Linked DNA regions of Homo sapiens: regions 1 and 3 are each linked to region 2. Evidence: fine-mapped expression QTL. A gene starts in region 2. Each other region holds a variant in brackets. All regions are shown on one strand. Distances are from middle to middle.

Evidence for each region. PIP is the estimated chance that this variant, and not a neighbour inherited with it, causes the effect. A credible set is the group of variants that fine-mapping cannot tell apart.
Region 1: its variant is the best candidate, but not a certain one, in a credible set for the expression of GCNT4 in whole blood (INTERVAL, PIP 0.65).
Region 3: its variant is the best candidate, but not a certain one, in a credible set for the expression of GCNT4 in prefrontal cortex (ROSMAP, PIP 0.66).

Annotation. Positions count from the first base shown.
Region 1 is chr5:75,157,881-75,168,884 of GRCh38, forward strand. All of the region lies in intron 11 of ANKRD31 (ankyrin repeat domain 31), which reads right to left. Among named protein-coding and RNA genes, the nearest start is that of ANKRD31, 73 kb to the right of the region's middle. The variant C/T (reference allele first, on the strand shown) is at 5,210.
Region 2 is chr5:75,047,846-75,058,849 of GRCh38, forward strand. GCNT4 (glucosaminyl (N-acetyl) transferase 4) reads right to left here and starts at 4,713. Exons shown (of 4, transcript NM_001366737.1): 1 at 4,584-4,713; 2 at 4,324-4,382; 3 at 52-192. RefSeq lists silencers at 4,960-5,209, 5,430-5,479, 5,600-5,969 and an enhancer at 7,815-8,405.
Region 3 is chr5:74,147,300-74,158,303 of GRCh38, forward strand. No RefSeq gene overlaps it. Among named protein-coding and RNA genes, the nearest start is that of LINC02122, 50 kb to the left of the region's middle. The variant C/T (reference allele first, on the strand shown) is at 5,696.

The DNA of each region.
Region 1 (11,004 bases), 110 kb after region 2:
CTACTCACCTGCAAATGTATGCTACCCTTCAAAAGAAAAGAAAACACCAAGAACAGAGAGTTAGCAATGAGTGAAGAGTAACAGATGGCTGTGATATAATAGAGGCAGACTACTCAGAAGCTTAGGAGATTAGCGAATAGATAGTCAAAGAGAGCCTGGCTAAAACTATAGTCCATCTTGGTGGCCCAGAAGAATGTTGTGTATATCCAAGGCAATGTCCTTTGAGGAGATGCTAGAGAAGAAACTTCTGAGTTACTGGTCCCTGGCTAAATGTAGGCCAAACTCAAAACTCCCTGAAGAATGAACATAGTCTATAAGCCACACCAGATCCAACAGTAAAATGTAAAAATCTTTCTGATTCAGGAAGGTTAAACACAACCTCTAACCAATCAGTAATTGACCACTAAATGGTCTTGAACCAAGGGTATTCTGTTGGAAACCAGGATAAAGATAAAAACAAGAAAAAAATTTTGCAAACAGGGTCACAAGACTGCACACTGTGAGGGAAATAGACTTCACAACTTATCAAACAAAGAAGCAACCCAAGTTGGGCATGTGGGTTGGGGGACTCAGGATCCAGAGTTGCTATAATACATTATCTTAAATGTCCAGTTTTGGCCGGATGTAGTGGCTCATGCCTGTCCCAGTGCTTTGGGAGGCCAAGGCAGGAAGATAACTTGAGGCCAGCAGTTCTAAACCAGCCTAGGTGACACAAGCAAGATTCCATCTCTACAAAAAATACAAGTAAAAATAATTTTTTAAAAAGCTGGGTGTGGTGGTGCATGCCTATTGTCCCAACCACTCAGGCAGCTAAGGCAGGAGGATCACCTGTTCCCAAAAATTCGAGGCTGCAGTGAGCTATGATCACATCACTGCACTCCAGCCTGGGCAACAGAGTGAGATTCTGTCTCAAAAGAGAGAGAGATAGTGAGAAGGAGAGAAAGACAGACATGAAAAGAAACACTAAAGTATGACCCATACACAGGATAAAAAGCAGCCACAGGAACTGCTTTGAGAGGGCCTATATGTGCAAAAAAACACTCTAAAACAGCTATTATAAATATGTTCAAAGAGCTGATGAAAGCCATGTTTAAAGAATTAAGAAAAAATATGTTGATAATTTATAAAATAGAGAATATTAATAAACAGAAAGTTTTAAAAAAATCAAATGGAAATTCTGGAATTCAAAAGTATAATAACTGAAAAGAAAAATTCACCAGAGGCCTCAACAGGAAGTTTAAGCTGACAGAAAAAAAGAATCACTGAATTTGGAGAGACAGATTAACAAAGATTACACAATCAGAAGAACAGATTTTTAAAAGAATGAAGAAAAATGAATAGAACATCAGAGAAATATAGGGCACCATTAAGCACAACAACATACACATTACAGGAGTTCCAGAAAGACAGGAGAGAGAAAAAGCAGCAGAGAAAAATATTCAAAGAAATAATAGCTGAAAACTTGCCAAATCTGATGCAAAGCATTAATGCACACATCTAAGAAGCACAACATACTCCAAAAAAGATAAACAAAAGGGATATATATCTAGACATAATCAAAGTCAAAATGTTAAAAGTCAAAGATAAAATCATGAAAGCAGCAAAGGAAAAAGAACTTATCATTTAGATAAGAACCCCAATAAAATTAGTATCTCACTTATTAGAAACAATGAGGTCCAGAGACAATGGGATGAGACAGTCAAAATGCTGAAAGGAAAAAAAACTGCCAAGCAAGAATCTTATATCTAGCAAAACTATAAATGAAAGCAAAATAAAGACATTCACAGATAAAAAAAAAAAGCTGATAGAATTTATTGGTAGAAGACCTGCTTTAAAGGAAATACTAAAGGTAACTGGGCTGAAAGCAAGTGACAATAACTCAAATCCACATGAAAAAGCCTATGAATAATGGTAATTATACAGATAATTATGGGAGATAATATGATTGTATATTTATTTTCCTTTATTCCCTTAACTGATTTAAAAAGCAATGGCATAAAACAATATGATATTGTATTACAAGGCCTATAACATTTATAAATGTAATATACTTGATAATAATACCACAAAAGAGGCAGATCAGAATAAAGCTGAATTGGAGTAAAACAATGATACCAGTTGGTAACTTGAATCTATAGGAAAACATGCACAGAGCCAGAAATGTAAAATAGGAAGCTTAATAAAATAAACTCTATAAATAAATACTTGCTCTTCTTATCTCAGCTTCTTTAAGAGACCTAAGACCATATAAAGTAATATTTGTAACAATATATTGTATTTATAAAATATACAAACATAATATGTATAACAGTAATAGAACAAAAATAGGGAAAAATAATTTTGTTATACGGAAACAATGTTTCTATATCTCACTGGAAAAAGGTTAGCATAAGAATGAAGTCAGTTCTGATAACTTAAGAAGCCCTAGAGCATCCACTAAGAGCATAACTCAAAAATATACTAAAAAAATCATTAAAGGAATTAAATTGTTACACCAGAAAATATTCACTTAATGTAAAAAGAAAAGCAGTATAGGTGGGAAAAACACAAAAAGATGAGATAGACTGAAAACAAAAAGGGAAATGGCAGGTTTAAATCCAACCATATCAATAACAACATTAAATATGAATGGATTAAACAACCTAATCAAAAGGCAGAGATGGTAAGATGTGATTCTTTTTAAAAATATACTATCTGAGACATACATTGGATTCAAAGATAACAAACAAGATGAAAGTCAAAGGATGGAAAAAGACATACCATGCAAATGGCAAAAGAGACCTGGAGTGGTGGTCTGGTTTGGCTCTGTGTCCCCACTCAAATCTCATCTTGAATTGTAATACCATAATCCCCACATGTTGCGGGAGGGACGCAGTGGGAGATAATTGAATCATGGGGGCGGTTTCTCTATGAACAGTGTTCTCATGGTAATGAATAAGTCTCATGATATCTGATGGCTTAATAAGGGGAAATCTATTTCTCTTGGTTCTCATTCTCTCTCTTGCTGCTGCCATGTAAGAAGTGCTTTTCCCCTTATGCCATGATTGTGAAGCCTCCCTAGCCACATGGAACTATAAGTCCATTAAACCTCTTTCTTCTGTAAATTGCCCAGTCTTGGGTATGTCTTTATCAACAGTGTAAAAACAAACTAAAACAGTAAATTGGTACCAGTAGAGTGGGGTGCTGCTGAAAAGATACCTGAAAATGTGGAAGCAACTTTGGAACTGGCTAACAGGCAGAGGGTGGTACAGTTCGGAGGGCTCAGAAGAAGACAGAAAAAGGTGGGAAAGTTTGGAACTCCCTAGAGACTTGTTGAATGGCTTTGACCAAAATGCTGATAATGATGTGGACAATGAAATCCAGGCTGAAGTGGTCTCAGATGGAGATGAGGACCTTGTTGGTAACTGGAGCAAAGGTGACTCTTGTTATGTTTTAGCAAAGAGACTGGCAGCATTTTGCCCCTGCCCTAGAGATTTGTGGAACTTTGAACTTGAGAGAGATTATTTAGGGTGTCTGGTGGAAGAAATTTCTAAGCAGCAAAGCATTCAAGAGGTGACTTGTGTGCTGCTAAAGGCATTCAGTTTTATACAGGAAGCAGAGCATAAAAGTTTGGAAAATTTGCAGCCTGACAAGGCAATAGAAAAGAAAATCCCATTTTCTGAGGAGAAATTCAAGTCAGCTGCAGAAACTTGCATAAGTAATAAACAGCTGAATGTTAATCCCCAAGACAATAGGGAATATGTCCCCAGGGCATGACAGAGATCTTCACAGCAGCCCCTCCCATCACAGGCCCAGAGGTCTAGGAGGAAAAAATGGTTTCATGGGCCCGGGCCAGGGCCAGGGTCCCGATGCTGTGTACAACCTAGGGACTTGGTGCCCTGTGTCCCAGCTGCTTCAGCCATGGCTGAAAGGGACCTATGTAGAGCTTGGGCTGTGGCTTCAGAGGGTTCAAGCCCCTAACCTTGGCAGCTTCCACGTGGTGTTGAGCCTGCAAGTACACAGAAGTCAAGAATTGGGGTTTGGGAACCTCTGCCTAGATTTCAGAAGACGTATGGAAATGCCTGGATGCTCAGGCAAAAGTTTGCTGCAAGGGCAGGGCCCTCATGGAGAACCTCTGCTAGGGCAGTGCTGAAGGGAAATGTGGGCTTGGAGCCCTCACAGAGAGTCCCTACTGGGGCACTACCTAGTGGAGCTGTGAGAAGAGAGCCACTGTCCTCCAGACCCCAGAATGGTAGATCCACTGACAGTTTGCACCATGTGCCTAGAAAAGCCAGAGATACTCAACACCAGCCCATGAAGGCAGCCAGGACAGAGACTGTACTCTGCAAAGCCACAAAGGCAGAGCTGCCCACGACCATGGAAACCCACCTCTAGTATCAGCATGACCTGGATATGAGACATGGAGTCAAAGGAGATCATTTTGGAGCCTTAAGATTTGACTGCCCCGCTGGATTTCGGACTTGCATAGGGCCTGTAGCCCCTTCATTTTGGCCAATTTCTCTCATTTGGAATGGCTGTATTTACCCAATGCCTGTACCCCCATTGTATCTACAAGGTAACTAACTTGCTTTTGATTTTACAGGCTTATAGGTGGAAGGGACTTGTCTTGTCTCAGATGAGACTTCGGACTGTGGACTTCTGAGTTAATGCTGAAATGGGTTAAGACTTTGGTGGACTATTGGGAAGGCATCATTGGTCTTGAAATGTGAGGACATGAGATTTAGGAGGGGTCAGGGGTGGAATTACATGGTTTGGCTCCATGTCCCCAGCCAAATCTCCTCTTGAATTGTACTCCCATAATTCCCATGTGCTGTGGGAGGGACCTGGTGGGAGATAATTGAATCATGGGGGCAGTTTCTCCCATACTGTTCTCATGTTATGTTTTAATGAAAAATCTACTTAGATACCACAGCCCAGGTGCTAGGTATGCTCATTGCTATTGGATGTTATTGCTTTTAGGTATTTTCAGTGAAATATATCCTTTTAGAAAGGAAAAAAAAATCTTGAGTTCATACTGATATTTTCATTTCCAACTTCATTGTATAGATTTATGCTTAACTTTGGTTCTCCACCTACCTGTATGTCTTTTTTTAAGCTAAACATTTGTTTCTTGATACAGTAACTGAATTACCTATTTCTTTATCATCTAATATACTTACAATATTACTGTTAACAATGCCAGTATTACTATTAACAATGAAACTACTAA[C/T]GATGTTTATTTTGGTAGTTCTTTTTGTTAGAGTATATTCCATTAGGGATGAAGAGAAAGAATACTGTCTTTTGAAGTACAAGTTTAATATTCTTTATTTGAAATGCTTGGGACCAGCAGTATTTAGAATTTTGGATTTTGGAATATTTGCACTACCCTATGGGTATGATGCAGGCCTTTTTGACACTTTCAATAATATATTTATACCACAGAGCAGAAAATAAGCAAAAAACCCACAGTGAGTAATGCACATAGGTCTTGGCCCCATGTGGGGCAACGTGGGGAACCTGGTGTTGGTGTGTCTGATCTGAACGTGTGCTATTTTATTACCCTTTGTGGATGTGCTTGCATGAAGGAATCTGGGCATGTCCAGAAAAGCTGAATTGCAGCTGAAGGGAGCTAAGAGGGTCTTTTTCTCTTAGGGTGACTGAATAAATTGTATGTTGTGTGCCAGTGTGTTGACTGCAATCATCATATGAAATCAGGTGTGAAATTTTTCACTCATGGCATCATGTCAACACTCAAAAAGTTTTGGATTTCTGATTTTTCGGTTAGGGATGCTCAACCTGGACTTGAAAGAATTTTATTCTCTATCCTACTAACTTCTTATGTAAGAAAGTCAGCTGATTCTAGAGGGAGGAAAGTACTTGAATCAATAGTATGATCAAAGGTGAAAAGCCATGGGCAAGCTTTAAGTAGAAGTGTATTTCCTTAAGGGGCCTACTGTTTAAGCTAAATAAGTGATGACTGTGATGCTAGCCACTTACTGAAATTTCTCTTCTTGTTCCAGTTAAGAACCCCTGGTGGCTTTAAAATATGTCTGTAAATTTAACATTCCTGCCTCCAAAGGTAGAGCCTAATTTCCCTCCTCAAGAGTACAGGCTGGAGTTTTAGTGGCTTGCTTTTAACAAATAGTATATGGCAGAAATGACAGTATGTGACTTCTAAGGCTAGGTTAAAAAGTATTGTGGCTTCCTCCTTGTTCTCAATCTTGATTCATTAACCCTGGGGGATGCCAGTTGTCATACTGTGAGGACATTCAAGCAGCTCTATGGAGGGGTCCATGTGGCAATGAACATGGCTCCTGCCTGTAGCTATGTCAGTGAGCCACCTTAGAAACAGATCTTCCAACCCCAAACTTTTTGTTGATTGTGTTCCCAGTCAACATCTTGACTACAACCTCATGAGAGACCCTTAGACAGAACCAACTCACCTATGCCACTCTGAAATTCCTGACTCACAGATACTGCAACATGATAAATGTTTATTATTATTTTAAGTTTTGTGGTAATTTGTTAGGTAGCAACAGATAACTAATACAGAACCTAAATGTAGGTTTAAAGTAGGTGGACACTCACTGAAAGTCATTTATTACTCTTTGGTGAGGAGAGAGCTTTTTAAAGGTAGAGAGTACATAAGCAGGCGTCAGAATTCCAAGTATTGGGCTACAGAGGAATTGGTAAGTGTAGATAGTTGGCGAAAGGACTGCCAAAGTATTAGTTACTGCCAAAGTAATGTATTCACTCCCTTGGGATCACCAACTGGATTTCCAGAAGAGTGAGGCTCTAGCTTCTGCCTTTTCCCTTCCTCCGTACCTTTTTCTCATGCTCCTTGATCCTGAATTTGACACAAAACATCCAGAGATAAACACCACAGCTCTTATAGCAACCTCCTTATAAAACTATTTTTCCTGAAAGAAACCAATGCATTCTGTATTTTCTTTGCTGAACAAAATGTAAATATCCAGGCATAAATTCTTTATGTTTTGCTTGTATATGGCTTGTATATGAATTATAGATTTAATCGTATCTACCATTGCTTTCAATTTCCCTAGCTGGCCTTAAATTCCCAATGTAAAGTAGTTTGAAAGGTAGAATTTTTAGGTTGCTGTGTCTTAATAATTTTTAAGGGATTTGACTGTTATTGTCCCTGTGATATGTATGGCATTTTTCTCTCCAAGACATTTTATAGCTTTTACAATTAGATTGTGTCCTTTGTTGTGATTCAATGTCTTATGCTTTCAGAGTTGTAATTTTTTGTACCCACTTCCATGGTATGGACCATGTGATCATAAAGGTTTAAAGTCCAAATACTCCAAAATCCAAAAAAAATTCAAAATCCTAAACACTGCTTGTCCCAAGCATTGCAAATAAAGAATATTCAACTTGTACTTCAAAAGACAGTATTCTGACTCTTCATCCCTAATAGCATATACTTTAAGAAAAAGAACTACCAAAATAAACATCATTAGTAGTTTCACTGTTAATAGTAATACTGGCATTGTTAGTAGTAATATTGTAAGTATATTAGATGATAAAGAAATAATTCAATTACTGTATTAAGAAACAAATGTTTAGCTTAAAAAAAGACATACGAGTAGGTAGAGAACGAAAGTTAAGCATAAATCTATGCTATGAAGTCTGAAATGAAAATATCAGCATAAACTCATGATTTTTTTTCCTTCTAAAAGGATATAGTTCACTGAAAACGCCTAAAAGCAATAACATCCAATAGCAATGAGCATACCTTGCATCCAGACTGTGGTCTCTAAGTAGATTTTCCATCAAAACATAACAATTTACAGAAAATATGTGAAGAAATAAGCTAAACAATACCACAAAGATAAAATGAGCCAAAACCAGAATTTGGGAAATTCTATAGGACAAATAAGCCACTTTTTTCAACAAATAGGAGACATAAAAATCCTAAAATATAGAAAGGACTGTTGTAGATTAAAACATATTTAAGATACATAACAAACACATATGATGTATGAGGCTTAATGTATTCTAATTCAAATTAAAACTTTCTATAAAAACACATATTTTAGATAACCTCAGAAATCTGAATATAGACTGGATGTTAAATGGTATAAAGAAACTTAACTTTTATTAGGTGAAATGATATCGCGAGTATGAAAAACTTTTTCTTATCTTTTAGAGGTTTGGGCTCAAGTATTTATGGGTAAAATAGTATTATGTCTGGGATTTCTTTAAAATACTCCAATAACAAAATCAGTTCATGTTCTAGCCAAACAGTCCAGAGTTCTACCACATAATATAATGTATAATCAATTTTCACAAGAGAGTTTACTGCAAGGCCAGGTGTGGCAGCTCCTGCCTGTAATCCCAGCACTTTGGGAGGCCTAGGCGGGCGGATCACTTGAGGCCAGGAGCTCAAGACCAGCTTGGTCAAACTGGTGAAACCCCATCTCTACTAAAAATACAAAAACTTAGCTGAGCATGGTGATACATGCCTGCAATCCCAGCTACTCAAGAGGCTGAGGCACAAGAAGCGCTTGAGCCTAGGAGGCAGAGGTGGCAGTGAACCGAGATCACGCCACTACACTCCAGCCTGGGTGATAGGGGGAAACTCTTGTCTAAAACAAAAACAAAAACAAAAACAAAAAAGGGTTCACTGTAGACACACATAAAATGAATAATCACCATGTCTGAGGCCTATTCTTTCAATATATGTGAATCCCCAAATCAATGCCAACAAACCCCTTCATTTCAACATCCCATACACTCACAGATTACAGGATACTTCAAATAAAAACTTTGTTAAAGTTTTGATAGCTTATTTCAATGCCATTACCTTTACCTACTAACAAGGTAAACCTAATAAAAGAGAAATAAAGGTTAGTCTGGCATGACTTGTTCTTAGTGATGCCTATGATTCCCAAAGAGCACTACATTCTTGCCTATGTCTTCCAACCATATATTTAATAACTTTTTGCACATTTTCTAAGGAACAACATTGAGCTGATCATTTGTAATTCTCAAATTCTAACTTTTCCACTCTTTAAAAAATGTATTTATTAACAGTTTTATTAAGATGTAATTCACATGCCACACAGTCTACCTATTTAAAGAATATAATTCATTGTTTTTTAGTATATTAAAAGGGTTGTATAACCCTCACCACAATCTAATTTTGGAACATTTTCATTCCCCCTAAAAGAAACCCTTTAACCATTAGTTGTCACTCACCATTCCCCACCCTCTAGACCCCCCATCTCTAATCTGTCTCTATAGATTTGACTATTACGGATATTTCAAATTAATGGAATGGTAAGATGTGGATTTTTTTTTTTTACTGCTTTTTCACTTTTAGAAAATAGGATATTATCTTTTAGTATCTCTCCCATAAAACAATTAAGACCTGTAAGATAATATATTCTAGTTCCTTCAACACTCCAGAATGCTTAAAGAAGCTCACACTCCCCAGGTAGTAGGACCAGCATTGGGTTCCCAAGGCTTCCCTGTTTTACATCTTTACTCCTGTGACACCAAAGGCATTTCAGCAATCCAATACCCAGGGCCTAGGCCATTTCTCTGATCATCTTTGCCTGACATCACACCAACTACTGGTTTCAACTTTTAATTTTCATGACTTTTCTCTAGACTTCCACTCCTGTCTTGTCATTCTCTTCTCTCACCACTAGTCAGGATATGCCATGGTGCCAAGAGCATATGAACCACAGGCAGATTGGAGGATTGCAAGAGGGAATGCAGTAAGTGGGGAAACTGGATTCTGGGAATAGAGGCCTGTGTCTTTGGTTCCTTTAACATCATTGAAGGAACCAGAGATTATTTCATATATGCAAAGGCCAAATAGGAGACAGCCAATGCTAGACTGTGAGGCAGAAATGGATTAGAGCCAAGTTCGAAGTGGGGCAAAGGAACAAATAGGAAAGAAAAGAAGAAAAATTAAAATGCTCAGGGCTCACTTTACTCAAAGGAAGAAAAGACTCTTGATCAGTATAGGTCAGCTCTGGGAAGTGAGGGAGCAAATGGGCTATGGTGTTAGACAGAAGAAGTGCTTTGGCGTGAGGTTTCTCTGCTTCTGACAGAGAAAGGATTCACACTGTCACATGTCCAAGCCTGCATTCTTCTGGCCATTAAACTGGATCCTGGGAAGAATTCTCTCCTCCTAGTCCTCTAAACTATATGCAAAAATGACCACCCATCACCAAGATATACATTATCAAACAAGCAAACAAACAATGAAAAACAAACAACAAAAAAAACTGCCTAAACCCTTCTGAAGTACTGTTTCATACTATGAAGGAATATGCCCTGTCTATTCCCATGGCTCCCAGCAGCCTTCTCCGCCTCTGCCTGTGTTAGGCATTTCTTCTGTAAATAGGCAGAACAAATCTTCTTAATCCCAGATAGTTAATACCCTTTCCCATCCTAGAAGTTTTTAAACCCAGAGGCAACTTTCAGTAACTGAAATGAATAACAAGATATCTTCAGCAAGTGCCTCAGCCTTGCAATGTTGTCCCAGGGCCAGAAAAAATGTGTAGTAAGCTAAAATAAATATGGTTTCTGAGATAAACCATGTATACTAGAATTCATAATCTTAATGTTACCATTTATTGCAGTTACTATTAACCAACTGGTATGCAATTATAGTAGTCTGATATTTTAACCTGCTGATATATCCTGGCTGATCATTAAGCTGAACTGATCAGAAACATTATCCTGCCTCAGGCTGATTATGAAAGTGACACCAGACTCCATAAAGCTGTAAACCTCCTATCAGGACTGGACATAACTGCGTAACACTCTATAAGAAGGAAACATTCTTCTAAACCCTATAAAGCACCATATTAAAGGAGTTTTAAAGGAAAACAAGTTGAAAAAAAATACTATGTAACCAAAAAGCTCTATATGGTTATTAAAAGTAACATGTAAAATGACACCTATCATATTACACACAACAAACCCATCACACAGTAAAATTTCATTATAAATTCTAAGTATTCATTAGCAGAATGAAATTAAACT
Region 2 (11,004 bases):
CTGAAGCTTCTGAATTCATCTTAATCTGACTATAAATAAACTGAAACTTACCTTTGTGTCACCTCCAAAGAAAACCCCAGGCTGATGGTATAAACAGCGTAGGGAAAGGAACATCACCGTCAGTTACTGAGGAGGTGCTACAGATGGCTGTACTGGGACAGTGACCGAGGATGTAGTTCTAGAACATGGGCCCTATAAAGAGAAACCATGTGCAGGAGGACTTTAGAATAACAGTAATTTAAATGCAAACAATGATTGCACTGATGACAACTATTCCTCTGATGTTAACCCAGAAGGACTGCAAAAGATGCCAAGTTTTTGAGCCTCATTAACTGTGAGGAAGGCCTCTAACAAAGATGCTCACGTTATTATTAACCCCTCAACCAGGATATCAGCACCCAAATTGGCAAAGGACACAAAGCTGAGACTCAGCTTATATGGAAAATAACAGAAATAGGAACCAAGCAGATTACCTGGATCTAGTAAGATAAATTTTAACAGAGAGAAGTACAAAACTAACACGTGCAAAAAATTAACTGTATTCGTTAATTGAGAACCCTGGTTCATGGAGAATTGTGGTTCGTGGAGAAACGTGGTTTGACAAGAGCATCTCTAGAGGACAGTTCAGTGTTTTGGCTGACCATACATTTGGCACGAGTCACAGTTTAGTTCGAGACTGTCAAAAGAAAGCAAAATGCAGCAAAACAAAAACAAAACCAAAACCATCGTGCTCCTGGACAGCATGCGAACCACAAAGCTGCAGAATGCGAAAGCTGAATGCAGGCTGCAAATCCTTGTTTCTATGAATAGTACCACCCAAAAAGGAAAGCATTTCCACAGTTTAGACCTTGGGACTAAGGAAGGGACCAACCCACTCTGCTCTGTACTGAGCAGACACCCTGAGAAATGAGTTCATGTCTGGCTACATCCCTCTGCTGGGTAGTAACTGATAGAAGTTAAGCAGCCCAGTGAGAAGCTAGTGACCACAAGACGGACCTGGAAAGGTTAAAGCTGAAGAAGTAATGACTCAATAGAGGAGTGAAAGCTGGCTCTAAATATTTAAAGAACTTATTAAAACACAAATTGCTGAGCCTCACGGGTTCCCAGGCGATGCTGATGTAACTGGTCCTGAGGCCACACTTTGAGAACCGCTGCTCTAAGTAACAAAATTGTAGTTTGTTTTTGTAATACTCTGTAGTTCTAAGATTCCACTAAGACCCGATGGCCTGTTTCTCAGTAAATCCACATTGGGAAGAATTTACTGGTTTTGAAGCCTCACACATTTGTGATTAAGATTGTTCTTTTTAACATTTCATATCGCTTAGCAGAAATTCAATCTTTCCTTTCTGCCCCTTAGTGTTTCTTATTAGTTCAGCTTCATAAAGCAGACTTCTGTTTCTGCTTCATTTTCTGGCATCTTATATGGTAGACATTTTTCCTCTGGTCTTCTTCCACTTTGCCTGTATTTTTCTGTTACGTTCAGCAGATCAAACTTCATAACATATTAAGTTGTGAGCTACCTTTATCAAATGATATCTGGCTCCCCACATCTAAAATAGTAAATACTGATCCAATCCTGTCTCCAAATGCCCACACTGAGCCCACCATCCCCAGAGATCTATTAGGATGGAAACGGCTGCATTCAATTCCTGATTAATTTTCTTTTCTCTTATATACTTGAAGCTTCAGTCTTTAGATCCCACTAGGAAAATTACAAGCATATGGGAATGCATATAAATGACATGCAAAGTAATGCAAATTAATACAAAACATACATCTCTAAATTGCTTGAGAAAAGTCTGTAAGCCTCAATGTTGATGTTATCTGCTTTGCTTCACTACACTCTGGCAAGCAGTGACTGGATCCCTTTATTACAGTTAATTTTATACAGCATCGAGCACCTGACACTTGTTGACACATTAAGTAGAAGGTGCCTTGCCTTGTGAGTCAGGCAAATCGGATCCTGGCCTTAACTTTGCCATTCCTTGGCTGTATGGGCTTGGACAGGTTCTCAACATTCTCTACGTTTCAGATTCTACAACCAGAAATGATAGAAATGGCATCATGATAATAAAACCACCAGCACTAAGGTTTACTGAGCACTTTATGTGCTTGCATAATGCACACAGGCAATCCTTACAACAGCCCACAAGGAGGTGCTGTAGAGCACGTACCCCTTAGGTGTGGTGCCGTTTCAGAGACCAGGAAACTGAGACAGGAATGTCAGGAAGCTTGGGCCTGGTCCTAAGCTAGGCAGTGACAAGAGTCAGACCCAGGAGCTCAGCAGTCTCACTGCGAGGCCTTGCTCTTAGCCATGCTGCATCTCTGTTGCGTGATTATCATCCATGTTTCTCCTAAACATTACATTTGTATGATCTGTGAAGTAAATCACTCGCAGTCACACGTGCTTTAAAACACTGTTTCTGTAAGATGTTGACAGTTTACATTACATGAGCTTGATATCAAAATACCATCGCAATCCAAGGGGGAGGGGATCCAGACATCCTGTGTGTTCAGCTTCTCCTTCCAACTCGCTCCATCGCATTCACATATGTCTAAGGCTCCCTCATCTTAAAGTACCTAGCCCTCCGTCCCACCTCTCACTCTGGGAGCAGCTTCCAGTCCTCAGACACCACCGCCTCGCCCCACCCCATCCACCCCAGGATTCAGACCACACCCCTCGTACAGAGGACCACCATCTGTGGAGAGTCAGCCAGCGAGTGCACTATGTGGCCACTAGGGAAGCCATTCCACTTAGGAGCCTCGAAAGCTGCCCAGACCCAATAAAACCAAACTTGTCTTTCCTCCTCCAATGTTCCCTGTTTCCGTAAATACCAGCACCCAAGCTTAGAGGGAGTCACGCTGCACTCTCACACCCTACACAAAACTCATCTGCTCTCACACCCTACACAAAACTCAGCCCCAGGTCTCTCCAGAGCCGGCCTTGAATCCGCCCAACGTGTCATCCCTACTGGCACTACCTCAGTCTCAACTGCCAGGCCTCCTGCACCCTCTGACCCAGCCCTGTCTACTTAGGGGCTCCTCAAGTCCATTCTCCACGGGGCAGCTGGAGTTTTGTTTTGCTTTTAATCCATATCTCATCTGCGTACTATCAGGTGTGAAACTGTCCTGAGGATCCACTCGCCACAATGCCCCTTGGCATCACCTGGCAGTGGTATCTGCTGGCCTCCCCGGTGCCATTCTCCATCCTCCCCTCAGGTCATACTGAACCTGTCTTTTCTTCCACCTCTCAGGCTCTCCTCTCCTCTGGTCTCAGCACACACCATTCCCGGGGATGGGAATACTCCCCTTTCTCACCTCTCCCCTCCCCCATGGCTGCTTAGTTTACACAGCTCCCACTCATCCTTGAGCCCACCTTCAGTCTCCCCAGCAAGGCCTCCTGCCTCAGCACAGATGCAGTGAGCTGCAGCACATCTGCGCCTCACAGCAGCCAATGCGCTGTTCACATTGGGACAGTTCACAGCCTGGTTCACAGCCAGTGCTCAACACAGGTGGCCTGAAGAACTCACTTTTCAGCCTTGCTTTGCTCATTTTTACTGTCTCACTGCTTTCTTCCCGCCTTGTAGCCTAAGAAGGAAATCCCCTGAAGCTGACTCCGTTTTACCTCTCCTATGTGGTGCTGTGATAAGCCCCAGGTCACCAGGTCATGCTCCCAGCACCCGTGGGTCAAGGATGAGGCAGAAACAGCACCGTCAGGTACAGGGCCCTCTACCTGCTCTCTCTCCCTCTCCCTTCCTAGAAAACAACCATAGGTCATTCAAAGTCAGTTTGGGAAGCACCTGTATTTATGGCCTGCTTATCTTGAAGGCACTTGGCCAGGTGCCATAAAGTGCTAACTCTGACTGCCCGACTATGCCATTCACCCCACCTACCTCTGTGCAGGAGATGTGACATTTAGCAAATCAGTATAAACTTTTTCCCCCAAAGAAAAGAGTATAAACCTTCTCATCCCACCACCACCCCGCAGCAGGAAACTCCTTTCAGTCTCCCCATAGAAAATTCAGCGGCCACACAGTTCCTTGGCTATTGTTTCTCTCCTGATACCAGAAAGAGATAAATCAACAACACATCTTAACTGGTCATTTCTCACACAAAATTGGATCCTTAGAAAGTGCAACATAGGATATGCTCTCTATAATGATTCACTTTTTCACTTTTAAAGATTTTACTTCCTTAAGAGACTATCAACAAAAGCTGTCAGAATGAACTGTTAGTTTCTAGAATGTTTTAGGCTTATTGATGCTTTAATAGGGACATGTTTTATGAATGCAAGATCAAAAAGGGCGACTTCTGTCTACTCACATGAGACAATTAAACGCATTATATTAGCCCCAACTCTGTTAATCTTCTGGTTTGTTGTTCTTCCATTTTTAAAGACAAAAAAAAAAAAAAAAAGAAAAAGAAAAAAATGAATTTAAAAAGTGCCCCAAGGCCAATATCGCCTCTCTGCCTGCCCAACGAGGGGACAATACACTGTTTCCCAGACTACGTGACTCGGAAAACTTCCCCGTCAGGGAAAGCTGAGTCTTTAAATTTACAAAACACCCACTCGCCCCGTTTACCTAGCACCGTTTCCTACGTGAAGACTGCAAATGGACTCGAGCGTCCCGTTTCTCGGCTCGGATCCCAGAAGCTCCCGACCCGCTGTGGTAGGCACCGCCACCTCGCAGGCAGACGATCCCGGCCCGCTCTGCGGCACAAAAAACTTGACCTTAAAAAGCCCAGAAACTGGTCTCTGGGAAGGGCGCGGCCTGGGAGGCGCGGCCCGCAGCTTCCGCCCCCAAAGAACAACTCGGAGGCCCCCTCCAGCCCCGGTTGCCCTGGCGCAGAAGCCGCGGTAGCAGTCCTTTCAGGCGCCCCGCGTCCCTGTCCCGAAGCCCAGGGGCGGGGGCTCGGGCAGCATCGCTTGTCCCCTCTGGTCCAGGGCTGCGGAGAAGCGGCAAGCGGCTCCGAAAGGCAAGCGTCACGAAGCCGGGCTCAGTAGCTCCCCCGGGCCCCCTGCGCCTCGCAGCGGCGCGGGCCAGGCTGGGCGGCGCTGGGCTCTGAAGGGCCAGGACGGCGGGATGCCCCTGCTCCCGGCAAGGGCGCGCCCACGAGCCGCTTCTTGGCACTTGGGGAGAGTCCCGGGAAAGCCCGGCGCCGGCGCGCTCGCGACTCCAGCCTGGCGGCTCCACTCCGCCCGCGAGCCCAGGAAGCCGGCTCCGCGGCCCGCGCCCGTTATCCAGGACACGCTCCGCGCCCGCCGCCCGCTGCCCTTTCCCCCCGCTGGCCTCGGGGAACTTCCCCGCGTCTGGCCGCAGGCGGCGGCTGCCGCGGGGAGCCCCGAAGTTGCGGCGTCTGCTAGGCGCGCGCCGGGTCGCCCACCCGGCCCGTGACGCTGTGTCCGTCCGCCGCGCGCTCTGGTGGCCCCGGGGCTCCTGCAGGCGCGGAGAGAGGCCGGGGTTCAGCCCGGTTCCCCGCGCGGCTCCGAGAGGGCGCCCCCGCCTGCCGCCTGGAGATGGACGCGGCGCCGAAGTTTTCCCCGGCGGGAAAACGAAAGTCGTGAGGAGCAGAGGGTCGGGGCGTCCCGGCGGAGACGAGGCTGAGACCGGGTTAACATCTCCAGCCCCGGGCGACCCTCGCTCCCCCGCGTGGCCAAGTCGACTTACGAGAGGGAGCGGGCCAGCCCCGAACGCGGGGTCCGTGCGGCTGCGGAGGCCGCCCCGGCGGGGGCCGAGGGTTGCGCTCTGGGTTCCCAGGCTCTCCGCGGCGGCTCGCTCTCGCCGCGCTCCTCCGTCGCCCTGCTGGGGAGCCGCTCTCGCCCGGCCCGGGGTGGGAGAGCGCTGAGCGGCCCCCGTGACGTGCGGAGAAAGTAGGAGCGCCTCCGCGCTCCCGCAGAGGGAGCTCCCTGCCCTGCGCTCCCAGTCCCCGGGCCGCGCTTCGGACAAAGTTCTCAGGCGCGCGCGGTGATCTCGGCTCTCCGCCGCTGCCCGGAGCGTCATCCACGTTCGGTTCCCTCCCACATTAGACAAGAAATCTGAGGTCAGGAGAGCTAAGTAACTTGCCCAAAGTCGCTCACAAGGCAGTGACGAAGCAAACTCACATCCGCGGCTCCTTTTTTCTCCTTGAACGCCGGGCTCTGCGGAGGCTCAGGCCCTGCAGGAATCGCCCAACCAGACAGAAGGCAGCTCGCTCTCATGGGTGAGACGAGGAGTGTCCCACGCAGCCGCGAGAAATATTATCAGCAGCGTGGGAAGGTGGAGCTTTTTGCCGAATAACTAGAGTGCAAAGTTGTTTTTCAAACAGTGCCTACATGCCAAATCGGCTTGCTTTTTATCCTCAAGCGAGAGTGAGGGTGGCGGCTGTGCGGACGCCAATCGGGATCACCGAATAAGTGCAGTGGAAAGAAAGCACACAGCCACTTAACCAATTGGCCGACATCAAGGACTTGGCCTTCCGAGCGGGTTCTTGTGAATATGCTAACTTTGTAAAGCGGGCGCACCACGCTGTGCTTGCTATTCACGCACTTCCAGGAGTCTCCCGCGAGGCTCCACGTCCTTTCGGGGCCGGGGGCTCCCAGGGCTTGCCTTTCAGGGCAGGGAGTGGCACCAGACAAGTCAATCCCAGTCGGTTTGTTCCTTTATCCCTTGCGTCAATCAGTGTTGACTGAGGGCCTGCAATGTGCATGGCTGTTGGGTGGGGAGCTGGGTAGGACCTAGGACCTAGGACCCAGTGAATCTCAAAGAGGGAGGGTCACATGGGTCCCCATATGCTTCACTCCCAGAATCTGGAATCTGCCCAAAGCAGTAGAGAGACTTTAAGTCTACCCCAGCCCCCACGCCTTTTTAAAAACTCCCTGTGTTCGGAGAGCAAGTGTTTTAATATTCGTTTTACAGACGTACTTTCAAGCAAATGGCCAGCTTTGCCTTCATTTTCTCCCCATGGGACCGCCTCTTTCTGGAATAATAATTTACACTTCCTGGGTCTCCCTCATTTGCACATGATGATGGCGATAGTCATGATGGTAAAAACAATTAAGGCTTCTATTATCCACCCTGGGCACTGTTCTAAGCAATTTATGCGGATTAACTCTTTCAATCCTCACAACTTTATGAGGGAGGTGCTATTTTAATTCTGATTTTACCGATGATGAGAGGGAGGCAGGTGAGGTGACATAACTTGCCAGTAAGTGGGTGGTCTGAATGGTGTCCATGCTCTTAACCACTGAGGTCTCCAAGACTGGAATTTAAAGGGACCACTAGCCATCATTAACCACAGCTTACACATCTCAAACAAGCCATGCTAGGAAATACATGCACTTCCTCCTAAAGAGGTCAATTTTATTATTTTGCGTGTATCATGTCATAAAGTGGATATCCATTCACTCACTTGCTCCTCTATTTCCAACTTCCAAATCAACTATTTTGTCCTAAAGCAAACTATTTCTTAAAAACCTATTCATCATAAAGTTTCCAATTTTTGTTTTGGATTGTTTTATTCTCAGACCATACCCAGCTGTTTCCCTCTCCTTTCTACTCACTGCCTTAAGTTACGCTTTTTTTTTTTTTTTTTTTTTTTTTTTTTTGTGAGACGGAGTCTTGCTCTGTCTCCCAGGCTGGAGTAAGGTGGTGCAATCTCGGCTCACTGCAACCTCCGCTCCTGGGTTCAAGCGATTCTCCTGCCTGAACCTCCTGAGTAGCTGGGACCACAGGCGCACACCAGCACGCCCAGCTCATTTTTGTATTTTTGGTGGAGACGGGTTTCACCATATTGGCCAGCCTGGTCTCAAACTCCTGACCTGGTGATCTGCCTGCCTCGCTTCCCAAAGAGCTGGGATTACAGATGTGAGCCACTGCGCTTGGCCAGGTTACTCTCTTTCATCCCTTAAAAACTTGTTGTAACCGGCCCTGCAGGTCTTCTGAAAGTGGGTTGCCCAAAGATGGTAGTGGCCCCAGAATGGTCTCTGCCACATTGTAAGCATGCTCATTGTGCTCAGCATTCCTGTGTTATTCTCCTAGGACTGCCTAACAAATACCACTGACTGCACAACTTAAAACAACAGAAATGTATTTCCTCATAGCTCTGGAGGCTGGAAGCCTGAAATCAATGTGTTAGCAAGGCTGGGATCCCACTGTGCCCCCTCCTAGCTTCTGGTGATTGCTGATAATTCCTGGCATTCCTTGGCTTGCAGATGCATCATTCCAGTCTCTGGCCTTTTCCTGTGTGTCCTCTGCAAACACATTTCCCTCTTCTTTAAGGATATTGGTCATTGGACATAGGGCCCACCCTAATCTAGTATGACCTCATTTTAACTTGATTACTTGGCAAAAACCCTATTTCCAAATAAGGTCACTTTCACAGGTTCCAGGTGGACATGAATTTTCAGAGAATGCTGTTTAACCTGGTGCAGTCTCCAAAAGTCATTGTTAATAAAAACATATTGCCTGAGCTAAGGATGCAAAGAGGTGTAAGTCACAGCCCCTGCCCTCCAAGAAACTCTAGTTACAGAAGTAGTCCTTGCACTGAGAACATAAAGACAGGCGTCACTAAGAGCCAACTAACTGAAGCCAAATGAAAATCTAGGGACCAAATGGCAGCTGTACACAAGGAATTCAGCCAAAGGGGCACATTCACTGAGGATACGGCTGCAAGACTTCACTCAAAGGTGAGGGTGATTCAAACACATCTGTGAGGGAAAAATTGAAAAAGCAAAGAGAAATAAGGAGAGCTTCTCAGAAACACAGCTCCAAGGGGAAGAGCATGCTGGCAGAATTTTGCTTCTTGAGTTTCATGCAGAAATGAAAGACTGAAGGGATGCAAATACCTACCATCCTGAGTATAAGAACATGGTGAATTACTCTTACTGTACTAATAGCATGCTGTAATGCTATAACAATTAGCATGCTTTAAAGTGCTCTCTTCACTGGGCACAGTGGCTCATGCCTGTAATCCCAGCACTTTGGGAGGCTGAGGCGGGAGGATCCCTTGAGGTCAGGAGTTTGAGACCAGGCTGGCCAACATGGCAAAACCCAGTCTCTAGTAAAAATACAATAATTAGCCGACGTGGGGTCGGGCACCTGTAATCCCAGCTACTTGGGAAGCTGAGGCAGGAGAATCGCTTGAACCTGGGAGACGGATGTTGCAGTGAGCTGAGATCACTTCACTGCACTCCAGCCTGGGTGACAGAGTGAGACTCCTTCTAAAAAAAAAGAAAAGAAAAAAAGTGCTCTCTTCTTTCAGTAATTTTATTTGATCTTTATGACAATCCTGGGTGTCATCAGAGAAAGGGACATCATATTTTATAACCAAGGATCCCAAGGTTCAAACAGTCAAGTAACTCGCAAAGGTCAAACAGCAAATCATTTATAGAGTTGATATGAAGCATATTTGCATGGATATTCCTCAGTTAGGAATGTCCCCATGATGTTGGCTCGTGGGCCAGCCTTCCAGTATTTATTGCATTGTTTTTGGTCCAAAGAAAGCATTTAAAGAAAAAGAGAATCCTGCAAGAAATGGAAAGTTTTTCTAACAGCTACGTGAATCTCAAACTGGAATTGTGAAAAACCTTCCCCAGACATCTGAACTGGTTTCACTAAACCTTCAGAGGATTTGCAAGTGTATTGAAGTCTCCTTTAGGCCTTCAGAGACTTAATAGGATCTAGTGGGCTTCTGCAGAACTTCGCTGATTATCTTAAAGAAATAGGGGTTGAATGAAACTTTGAGGGCACTCAGAACACTGAGAAGTTGAGGGGAAGCTGAGTAAAAAACAAGAAATTACATTACAGGATGGTATGCCAGCAGAAATTGACAATTAAAACTCAGTATCTGATCTCACCAATGTGTAAAGTTATACACAGACGACCAGATCATGGCATGTTTTGAAAATTTTCTGATAAGAATCTGCAACTATGACTAGCAACGGAAAGCAAGCAGGAAGTCTAGTGTTGGGCTGAGTATCTGATGATTTAATGTGTTTCCCTGGATTTTCCTTTGCTTGGCAAGCAGGTAACTTGCTGAATCTTCTGCTGGCTATCTTTAAAAATATATTTAAGCTTGAAATGCTTTTGATTCTAGTGTGATTCACTGAGTCTTGGTTGTGCATAGTGCTACACTGGTTGCTATGGGAGAGTACAAAAATATAAAAGACAGCTCCTGACCAAAAGAAAATCTCATCTAATTCAGGACACATGAGACATATAGAATAAAAATTATATAAGTGTGGTTGCAATGGAATTTGTAAGCAGTTATTACTCAGTTCACTGTTCAGATGTGACTTCTTGAAAACAGGCCCTCCTTGGCTACTCTTTTTAGAACAACGGCCTGTCCCACCTCCACATCACCTGTTGGCCTTTTTCCTGCTCTGTGGTCTTTATGACACTTATTACTATCTGAAATTAAATTGTTGCTTGTTTACTCTGCTCCTAGACATACTATCTCTGAGGGCATGAGCTTTATCTTATTCTCTGCTGTATTCCTAGCACCTAAAGAAATGTTGGGAACATATTAGGTGCTCATTAAATGGTTGTTAAATAAATGAATAAAATACATATTAACCAACTGAGAATGGACTAAGATAGCTTGGATTAATGCTCCTCACATTTGCCTGATAAGACTCATCTAGGCATTTGGAAAAAAATTTGCTGCAGGTTCTGATTCAGTAAGCCTAGAGTGGGGCTCAGGAATCTATAGTTTTAAGACATATCCCAGGTGATTCTTTTAATAGGACTGTCTGGGAAACGTGCATTACTACAGTAATAGAGGGTTGGTGGGAAAGAAAAGTGAATTGATAACAGCAGGTTGCAGAGGTCAGTGGCTGTTCATTGTAGTTATCTGGAGGAGATTTTAAAAATACTGATACCCACTCCAGACCAATGAAATTAGAATCTCTTAGGTGGGGGCAAACTTGGGCAGGGTATTAAAGCCCAAGGCAGAGCCCTCATGATGTAATCACCTCTTAAGGGTTCCGCCTCTCAACACTGTTGCATTGAGGATTAAGTTTCCAAC
Region 3 (11,004 bases), 900 kb before region 2:
CTTTCAAACTTTAATCAGCTAGGGAGTTTATCAATAATGCAGATTTTCAAGCCTCTCCCCCTCAAGATAGTCTGGTTTCTTGTATCTGGATTGGGGTCCAATAATTAGCATTTTTAGTAAGTTCCCCAATGTGATTCTGATACAAATGTTCCCAGATCACAAGCTGAGAAGCACAGTGGGTGGGACCTCTTTGGTGGCTCTTCATGACGCCAGCTATAAAGATGCCTGGGTTTCTATGAAGCCACCTGGCTATTCCCCTCCTGTAGCTAATCCCTAAGCCCCAGAACTCAGCTATTCTCTACAGCCAGGTGAATCCAGACGCCTCCTGTACCTGCCCACCTATTTTCCATTAACAGTGAAATAGCACTTGGGCAATTGTGAATAACATTGAGTCCACAAGACATCTCAAAACAGGCATCTAGAAGCCAATGTAAATAAATAATGGAAAAGAAACATTTGGGCTTGCTTTTGCAACTCTGAAACACTTGATTGTCAGTCTCACACAGTTTAAGACTTGCTTATATACTGCCTGGTCTGTTTGTTCTTGTGTGTCTTCATCTTCCAAATAAAATGTAACTTCTTGGGAAGAAGCCTCAAACTTTTCTCTTATTTCCCCTACAGCATCTACTACAAAATTGGTATTCAACATAGGATGACAGTTTCTGACTTATAATCAGGTTACTTTCAAAGGTTCATTTTTCAGCCAGTTATTTGGATTTTGTTTCTCATTAGGACAACGTTATAAAGTGTAGTTATGTTCCCAGACCAGCCCCCAAATGTCTATTTAATTGGCAACATAGCTGAGTAGTACTACAAGACCTGAAATCATCTACAATAGTGCTTTTATGGGGAAATGCATTGCAGATTCCAACTGAAGATGCCAGGAGATCATTTTTCTGACCTTGGTTCCAGGACAGGCCTTGACCCATGTATAGTTAGAACTGTCCTCCTGCCTCCACACACACACACACATACATATATTAGACTGGCTGTCTTGAGGTGCATGTTCCAAAGTTGGGGAAGGGGTGGCACAAGTTCCTGTTGGGAGACTGGACAGGGATACAGGGCAAGGTGTGCTCCTGCCAGAGTCAGGGCAAAGGGTCTGGAAGAAAGCACATACCAGGGATTTAAGTGGGGAAGTGGTACTGGTGGGAGACTGAAGGGATCCAGAGGGCACAAACTCTCTTGGCTGCAGTTGCAGAGACCAGCTGGGGCTGTCTTGGCAGTCACAGCAGTGGCAGCACAAGCTGTAATGGCCACATTGGCTGGGGTCCCATCATAAGCCTGCAGATATGTTTTGGGGTAGTGGCATTTTAGTTATTAATTGCTGGGTAACAAACCACTCTAAAATGTAGTGGCTTAAAAAAGCAACCATTTTATTTGCTAATGATTGTGTAATGTGGGCTTGCCAGTGGCCATTGTGTGGCTGCAATCAGCTGGTGGAGAGTTTGGGGGTCTGTATTTTTGTGGAATGCCGGGACTACTGGGTTCTCTCTTCATGTAGTCATGGGACTTCTCTATATGGCCTCTCCAGTGGAGTAGCCAGACTTCTTACATGGCAACTCAAGAGAGCAAAGAAGCAAAAATAAACTTCTAGGACTCTGTAAAGGTAGGCTGACCACTGGCACAGTTTCACTTCTGGTTTCAGTGGTCCCAGGACAGCCCAGATTCACGGGAAGGGGCTTCACAAAAGCATGAATTCCAGGAGGCATGGTCCAGTAGGGGCCACCAAGCCAACACATACCGTTTTTGGTGTTCTGTGAGAGGCCCTGAGGCCAAGAGTATTTTGTTAAGAGTATTTCCATTATGACCACCACAACCAGATTGCTAACGTTCCTAGAAAAAGCCTCTAAATAATTTACTTCTCACATCTTTTCATGTCTAAAAGTAAGTCATCTTTCTGCAGAATCCATCCTGTCACTTTTTCCTTCACATTTTCTCACTCCATTTTTTTTTCATCAACACAGCTACCTACTTTACATAGGCAGCGTTCTCAGTCATAATGTCACAACACCTTGGTAAATTACAGTGGATTTTGAGGTGTGTCAAGATAATAGCACATAAATCCCTAAAGTTTGCAAGTAGTTTATTCTTAAAAAGCCAACTAATATAGGTACGAGGTTAGCCCTGTAATAATATTCCTCTTTGATTTATGTATTTACCCGAGGAGTAGAGAGAGGGGTGGAGTTGGTGATAGTGCTTTGGAAATCGGTGTGTAACCCTGGTATGGCAGAGGCAGACCTGGCTGCTTCCCCAATCTCCTCTTCCCTCTAGCAAAACTTCTGTTTGATTTGTGGTGGCAATGTGCCCAGCCTCCTCTCCATCTAAGTATGGCAATATGACTAAGTTCTGGCTAATGAAATAGAGGAAATAGTGTCTGAGACTTCTAGAAAGGTTGCTTAAAGAAAGCAGACTTAACTGGGAAGGGAGCCTTTGTGGCTCACTTTGGATTTCTTCCTCCTGTTGCCTGTACTATGGATGTAATGATTGGTTCACCAGCAGCCATTTGGGATCACAAAGTGACTTTAGGTTAGAAATCAGACTCAAAGATGGTAGGTATAGAGATAGATGGATTAGTAATGACCATGGAGCTTTGTTCCAACCCTGGACTCTAGAAATAGAGATCAAGATCAAGGTGGACATAGAGAGGTTCTTTTTGTTTAAGCCATTATTTTGGATTTCCTGTTATAATCAACCCTATCTTCTGTACTTGGTCATACCCATGAGGATATATAGCCTATTGTGAATTCCATTGCTGTGAATATTGCAGCAGAAAAAATGGTTAAGAACCAATGGTCAAGGCTGTGGAGAATTTTCACCGGGACTCTCTCTCAATCTCTGTGTTCATCAGCCCTCTTGTCAATCCTTAATGGATTGAGGAAGTATTGTTCTGCTTGGACTATAATGATGCTGTTCTTTGTCTCAAGGGCTTCCCATCCATTTCCTAAAGATCTTTCTTATCTGCACTCTTTCATTTGTTTTTTTCTTGTGTATCCGCATTGACTAACATAGCACCTGACACAGTGTAAGTTTAATAAATAGTTGTTAAATGAATGAACAAACTTATCTTCCCTGTGTCTATGCACAGAATCTAGAATGCCTTTTACCTTTCCTGTTCACTACCACATTTCTATTTTGGCTGTATAGCTTATGTTCACCAAGCCCAGGACTGAGCCAGATAAGCTTGGTAACCAAACTCCCATTAGTACCCATGAGCAATACTTGCCAAGTAGATGGTGTGTTTGTTTCATGTTTAAGACATTGCTTTACTTGGGTTCTGTAAGAGGAAGGAACAGAGTCCCACTAGAAGAGGAGGGATCATTCATTGCAAACCAGTCACTCTCCTAATAAAAGCAGAGATGAGTACGTGATTTTAGTCAGGACAGGGATGGGGAAATAAGGAATAGAAGTGACTGAAGAGATGACTACTCAGGGGAAGAGGCATCTCTCAGCCTTGACGTTGAGGAGACAAGGCCATGGGGAGGTAGTTCCCATAAAGCAGGAAATCAAGTGGCAGCTTCTCTATGGAGGTTTAAGCTGAAAAGCAAGAAAACTTGGGTACCATGGGATCTAGGGCCCACCTAGGTAGGCATCTCTAGTGGGGCCATTCACCTGGTATTTTCCATTCTTCTCACATAACTTCGTTGTAGTAGCAAAGTAGGTTCTCAACCTTGGTATCTCTTATATTTATTCCTATAGATTTTTTTTTCTTGTTTACAATTAAACCATTTTATTTCAATTATTTGAATTATGAAGGTACATATTTAACATAATCCAAATAATAAAAGTGACAGTCCCTTACCTCTGCTTTAATTTTTAACTGAAGACTTTATGAAGATGATAAAAGGGCTTGATGAGAATGATTACGCCCATATTCTGAAGTAAGAGCTAATGCAACTTTCAAATATTAACTGCATGCAATTAATAAGAAGGTATACCCTAAGCTTTATAGCATTCCTGATTCCCTTCTCATGGAGGCCCCAGAGACAGCCTTTAACCTGTGGGGCTAAGGGAGCCATCCCTCTATTGGTCCAGTCTAGAGCCTGTTGAATGTTCCATGGTAATCTTGCCTCAAACACTGTTATCCATGTTTAGGTGTCTGCTGCTTGCTTCAATGTATTCATTATTAAATTTTACTTTTTGGCTTATAATTTGCCCAAATGCAGGTTTCGAAGATGATGTCTTTATGAATTGATTTCTATGGAAGATCCTGCTTTCCTCTAATATCTTCTGCAAAATATTGTCTGTCACTCTGGGATAAGGTAGCTCTCTGTTTCTCTAACTCGAAGGCTTATGATGATTATCTTTGCAAAAATCAGCATCCTCTGTCCCGGTACCATTTGCAAGCTCGTGGGAGGAGTTCTTTAAATACTCATTGGTTGGAAAGAGGTTCTTTCTGATTGAACTTTAAAACAAAAAGGGAGAAATGCATTCCTGAGATCCAACCTGGTGGGCAAAGGTGTAGAAAACATGAGCAGCCTTTTAACCCACCCATAAGGAAGATCTCCATGTAGTGCCAAAACCAGGAAAGTGTGTGTTGTGTGTGTGTGTGTGGTGTGTGTGGTGTGTGTTTTGTGTATGTTATAACCGTTGTTCCATTTAAGCTTGCAATAGCCACCACTGCTCCTTATACCACATCATGTATGACCCTTTTCCCTGTTCATGATATTAATGTTTTCTGTAGATGCTTGCTTTGTTTATATTTGACTAAACATGGTTTGGCTGGTAGTGCATATTTCTCTAATGTCCATCCTAGTGAGTGCTATCTCAAGTCTTAAGTTTTTAGAAATATAACTCCCTGCTAATTTGACTATTATATAGCACAGAGCTCCATGTAAACATGGTGTTAAAAATCAATTTTGATGATGATAATTTATCAAAAACTTTAGAGAATGATACTGATATGCCTTTGAACAAGGTTGAGGTTTTGGTATAGCCCCACTGCTGGAGTGTCTTCCTTCAAAAGATGTAGGCATTTTAAAACCAGATGGAAGCACAGTATAAAAAGCATTTGGTCACACTTTCCAAGGGATTAACTGAACTAAAAAAGCATAAACATCTCACACAGATTGGCGATGCTGGTGCCGATGACAATGATCTCAACCTTTTACTTTAAGGAATCTTAAACGTTTTTGGAAATAAACATATCTGGACTAGAAGCCAACCGTATAAATAAGAACTAGCCTCTATTGCTCCTGTCTGAAAAGAAATCTGAAGGGGTTGGTTGAGATTTGTTGCACTTGTCTTAAATAAGTTGAATATCCTCAGCCTTTCCTTTCTCTTACCTTTATTGTTTATTTGATTTTTTTTTTCATAGGAGTCTGCATCATTGCTCCAACATGGGTAAAAAAATAGCCTTCAGGTCTAAACATATTTACTTCTCAGAGCTTGTATTACAGTTAGAGCTGGAAAATGAATGCCAAACATAAATTCCTGCATGCAAAATGCTTCCCCATCTACATGGGCTTGACAATGACCAAGTCTGGGACTCAGGATGGTGGAGGCTCGTTTAGGCTGTAACCTCCATGAGGTTGCACTGGTTATGCTTTGAACTTTGACTGTAACCCACAAAGTGATACTTTTCTTTGTGTCTTGTTGAGTTTTGGAAATCTTTCAAAGTTACCATAAAATATTTAAGACACAAATAGAAAACTCTCAACTATTCCTGCATATCATTAGCGTGAGAGTGTGGAAT[C/T]GTTTTCGCAATGTTGACACTGTCCATTTTTCCGTGTACTTAAAAATGTTTATTTTTAGTTTCTTTTCGTCTGCTTTTCAAAGAGTACCTGGCTTTCAAATATCATTTTCTCCAGGGAGTCTTTAATATTCCAAACACTCTGAAGAAACATTCCATGGTCATTAAGGCTGTCAGAGGAAAAAAACAACACTTGTAGTGTCTCATCATCTTCACCAAGTTGTCACTTTCTTAAGGAAACCAGTCTCAAAGTGACCCACTACATATTTTAGTATGTTGACTTTTTGAAGGAACAAGGATATTCATCATTTAATTATCCCCAGGGACCACTGTTTGACAAGACATTTTTAAAAGGAAAATCGGTGTTTTCAGAGTCAATTCTGCAACCTTAAACATGATGTAGTCAGCATCAAATACCCTCTAGAGATGAAAGGTGACCTCATCAGCAGCACACTGAGATTTAAGCTCAGCATATTTTTCCAGAAAATATGGATCTTGCTCTTGGCTTTCTAGTGGTGATCTAATTTTCATGGCTATGTTAAAAAGAAAACACACAATAAAAGGATTTGAAGAGCTCTGCTTGTTTCATGTTGGAAAAGCACTGTAATTTATAGTCATGTACTTAATCAAAATGCTTTATCTTAGTGTTAGGAACTCTAAGTTTCATTTCAAAGGGATATCTAAAGATCACCACCAAATGGAAAAGCCAGGATTATCTGGGTAAATTCCAGACATGTTCTTCTGCTGGAGGAAATCACAGCACAACTGCTTTCTAATGCTTGTCCTGGTGGATAAGGCCGAAGGCCATGTTCCAGAATGTTGAATTCTAGAGCAATGGTTCTGAAACTTGAGGATGCTTCAAAATCACCTGTGGGAGGGGGGAGGCTATTAAAACACAGATTGCTGAGCTACCCCTGGAGTTTCTGATTCAGTAGATTTTGAATGCATCCTGAGAATTGAATTTCTGCTAATGCTGTTGACTCAGGGGCCACACTTTGAGAACCACTGGCCTAAAGTTTGGGCAGGAGATGTTCATCAGTGGTTCAAATAAAACAGACTGGGAGGTGTCAGAACATAGAATTAAATGTACCAAGGGAATGAGGGGACACAAATTGAGGCAGGGAGGTCAGGCTTATAGTGAGATTGAGCAGAGAACCTTGAAAAGAAGCAAACAAGAAGTTGGCACTGGGATATCACATCTGCCAAAGCACCTCAGTCCAGTGATGAGAGAATACAGAGGTAAGATTCTCCACAGGCCAGATGGATATTTAGCATTAAGATAGTAGCTGTCAAGGTTCACTTCACTCAGCTGGGGTTCAGGGATGGCTCCAAACCTGTGGTGACAACTGATAAGAGTATTGTGGGGCCCTAGTCCTCAAAAGGACTTGGAGAAACCAAGAAGATGGCAACAGGTATTCAATGTGTCTGTTAAGGTAACTCTTGCTGCTGCAACAGATGCAAGAGAACCCCCAAGTCACAATGACTGAGTTTATCTCTTGCTCACATACATTTCAAACCAAGTATTCTTGATTAATAAGCACCTCTTTTTAAGGGGTGACTCAGTTACCCAGTGACCGAGGCTCCTTTCATCTTGTGGCTCTCCCATCATCAAGTGTAACTTACAAGAGGAAAGCATGGAGGATCACATGTAGGAGGTTTTTAATGGACCAGGGCTGGAAGGGACTCTTATCACTTCTGCCTAAAATCCACTGATCAGGAATTGACCACGTGACCACATTTACTCAGCAAATCTACTTGTGTCCACCAGCTAAGTGTCCAGGAGGAAGAAGAAACAGGTTTGCTGGCCAGCTAGCAAATCTCTGCCACATTCAGATAAGAGCAGTAAGGTGGAATTATAGTTACTAAAATTGATCACAAGAGGAAGTTTTGCCCACCAACCAGTGATGCACTGGATGCGCTAGCTGGGGATGTTAGCTCATCATTGCATGGATCCTGTAGGTGGGGAGCAAAGAGGGTTGCAGGGCTGCAAGACAAGGACCAGACATGGATTAACAGCTTTTCCTGAATATGCTTGAAGAAGGTTGCATTCTTTCTCTGAAAACCTCTCATCTAAAAATAACACATTGAGGAACTCAATAATGTCCTACAGCTATAAAAGAAGATGTGTGTTTTTTCCATCTTACATCTTTTGAATGAATCCATCCAAAATATCATGGAATAGAGTTCATGTTACTAGTGCAGGTACACATTTCTTGCTTTGAATGTATTTTTAAAATTGTATTGTTTGGAAATATCAATTGAGAAACATTACTGCCAATTTTCCTCTCTTTAACACATTTAGAGAAGATCTTCAATGATAACACAATTGCACATGAAAGGTTTTCAACAAATGAAAAGACTGAAGACTATTCACTTTGGGGAAAATGAAGACAGAGTGGGAATATAATCACATAAAAAATAGGGAAATATCTTAATTAGTGTCCCAATTCCCCTTTTCACCACTGCTCAGGAGAAGTAGCCCACTCCCCACTTCAATTTGCCTTGAAAAACAATATAAAATCTGGGAGTCTGATCTCAAAAAGCATGCAAATCACAGAAAGGTTCTAAAAAGTTTTAAAAGGCTCAATCCTTTTAAAAAAGTAATCTTGCCATTTTGAAATAATTAGGGATGATTCCATGCCATGCCTGCTATGGGGTGATAGTGTGATCCACAGGCCAAGTCAGTGGGGTTAGCAGGGTCATGGTTGAATCCATGGTGATGTCATAGCAATCTTACTGATTGCTCATGAACTTTCGTTGCTTTTCTTTTTAATTTTTTAGTCATTGGTTGCTTATTAGTTGCAGCTGTTTTTGCTTGGGGATGGAGTAATAATTGGTTTAAAGTACTAATTTATATCATTGTGCAAAAATCTTACATAAAAACATCTTTATAAAATCATAGTGTGTTTTTGATCTTATGCTCCCTAAACACAAGGAATATCCTTAATAACAATTAATTCAGACCTCATCATTTTGAATAAGCAGTCTTCTGCAACACAGTCTGCCAGCCATATCCGTAGGTTCTGCATCCACAGGTTCAACCACAGATCAAAAATATTTTTTAAAAATAGGCCAGGTGCAATGGCTCATGCCTGTAATCCCAGCACTTTGGGAGGCCGAGGCAGGTGGATCACCTTAGGTCGGGAGTTCAAGACCAGCCTGGTCAACATGGCAAAACCCTGTCTCTACTAATAATACAAAAATTAACTGGGCATGGTGGCGCATGCCTGTAATCCCAGCTACTTAGGAGGCTGGGACAGGAGAATCACTCGAACCCAGGGGGTGGAGGTTGGAGTGAGCCGAGATCACGCCACTGCACTCCAGCCTGGGTAACAGAGCAAGACTCCATCTTAAATAAATAAAAATAAAAAAATACAAGTAAAGGCAGCTATTTGTGTAGCTTTTACATTGTATTAGGTATTATATGTAATCTAGAGATGACTTAAAGCATATGGGAAAAGGTGCATAGGTGATATGCCCATCATATACCATTTTATATAAGGGACTTGAGCATCCTCAGATTTTGGTATCTGCATGGGCATCGTGGAACCAATCCTCTGAAGATATCGAGGGACGACTGTACTTAAAAGTGAATATGTGAGAAAATAACCCTTCCGATTCTTTAAAGGAAGGAAAGGAGATGGCTCTTATACATCTTAACTATTCACATTAAGAAGTAAGTATGTGCTGGAGGGGAGAGGGATTAATATCTGGCCAGGATGGTGCTATCGACCCCAGCTGCACTTGAAAATCATCTAGGGAAGCTGTGAAAAATACCACTCCCTGGGGTTCCTCCACCCAATTACATCTGAATCTCTGGGGTGGGCTCAGCATTGGTATATTTTTAAAGCTCAGAGAACCACTGGCCTGGAAGATTCTCACTCACCTCCCTTTGTTTATGTGACCTATGACTGAAAGTGTAGGTGGGGAAATGCCCAAAATAGGGCAAGGAGAGCACTCTGGGAAAAGAAAGTGGGTGGGAAAGTGCTATTGCCTTTTTCTAGTCCTACAAACAGAAGGGCCTCGACCTAATCTGACCCGTACACAGTCCTACCAACTGGTTTGGGCCTCCCATTATCTCTTATTTTGTCATGAGGATCTCAAGGTTCTCAGATGCCAAGAATCAAGAGTCCAATTGTATTATGTGCATCCAAGCCTGCTGTAGTCATGGGACATGCCCTGTTTCCTCTCGGCATGTTTATCAAGCTGAGATGGCTGGCTCCAGACCCAGAGTTTTTTGCTGACCTTATACTCAGTGGCATTCATCCATTTATTTACTCTATAAATATATTCACTTGCCTATTCTAGGTATAGGCAACTTATTTGGCACCTGGCTTAACCTGTGTAGTGAAGTAACCAGATTCAAGGCCTCACACTGGAACCCTGTGGTTATGAGGCCACCTCACTCCTGAGCCTTGGTGATTGTTGCCATTGTCAGAGGCTGGCTCCTGGGGTGCAGCCTGCTTGCTGATGGGTAGTGACAAGCTCCCCAACACATCCATGCTCAAGCAGTGGAGGTTGCTAGTGACCAACACCCTGTATCAGGTTAATACCAACCAGTGCCACCTAGGGATTAGAATCTTTACAAGTTAAAGTAACAGCTAGAAAGCTCCTCTTTGATGCTAACCCCTTTTTCTGGGCCATGATTTCAAAGGAAAGACATGATTTGGCATAATGTTTTGTCATTGAGTCTCTGTTGGACCATGCAGAATAGCTTTCTTCAGGCAACTATTAACCATTTCTGTTGCTAAAGAGGTCTCCATCTGACAGACACAAAAAATAAATGAGGCTACATTTTGTAGCCTCTCAGAAGAAGAGCAATTCAAAATACTACCTTAGAGTGTGCCATAGGTAGATTATTTTATGCCCACAGATAATACTTACCTTTAAAAGTTTCTGGACCAAAGTTGCCTCAACTTTGTGGGAAATTTCAAACTTTAATAACCATTCAGGTAATTATTTACTCACAGTAAATTCTGGCCCTAAGTATATAAGTATATGAGATTTTTAGCCTAGAACCTGGGAAAGGTAGGGTAGTCCTACTTTCCAAATAAACTGCACATAATTCTATCTTATAAAAATGACATTTGCTGAAAAGTTCATATGTTGCAAAGTCATTAAAGCCTTACTTATTGGCATATTGTTTATTTCCTGCTCATTAACAAATCAAAAGTAAGAGGTAGAGCAGTGGATAGTTCTACTAGAATGTGCTGCCAGGTCCATTGGTTTTGAATAGCCCTAAATAATCTTCTGAATTGGGGCCAAGTGGGTGAATGTCCTAGCCCATCTCTGTTTTAATAACATGCAACCCT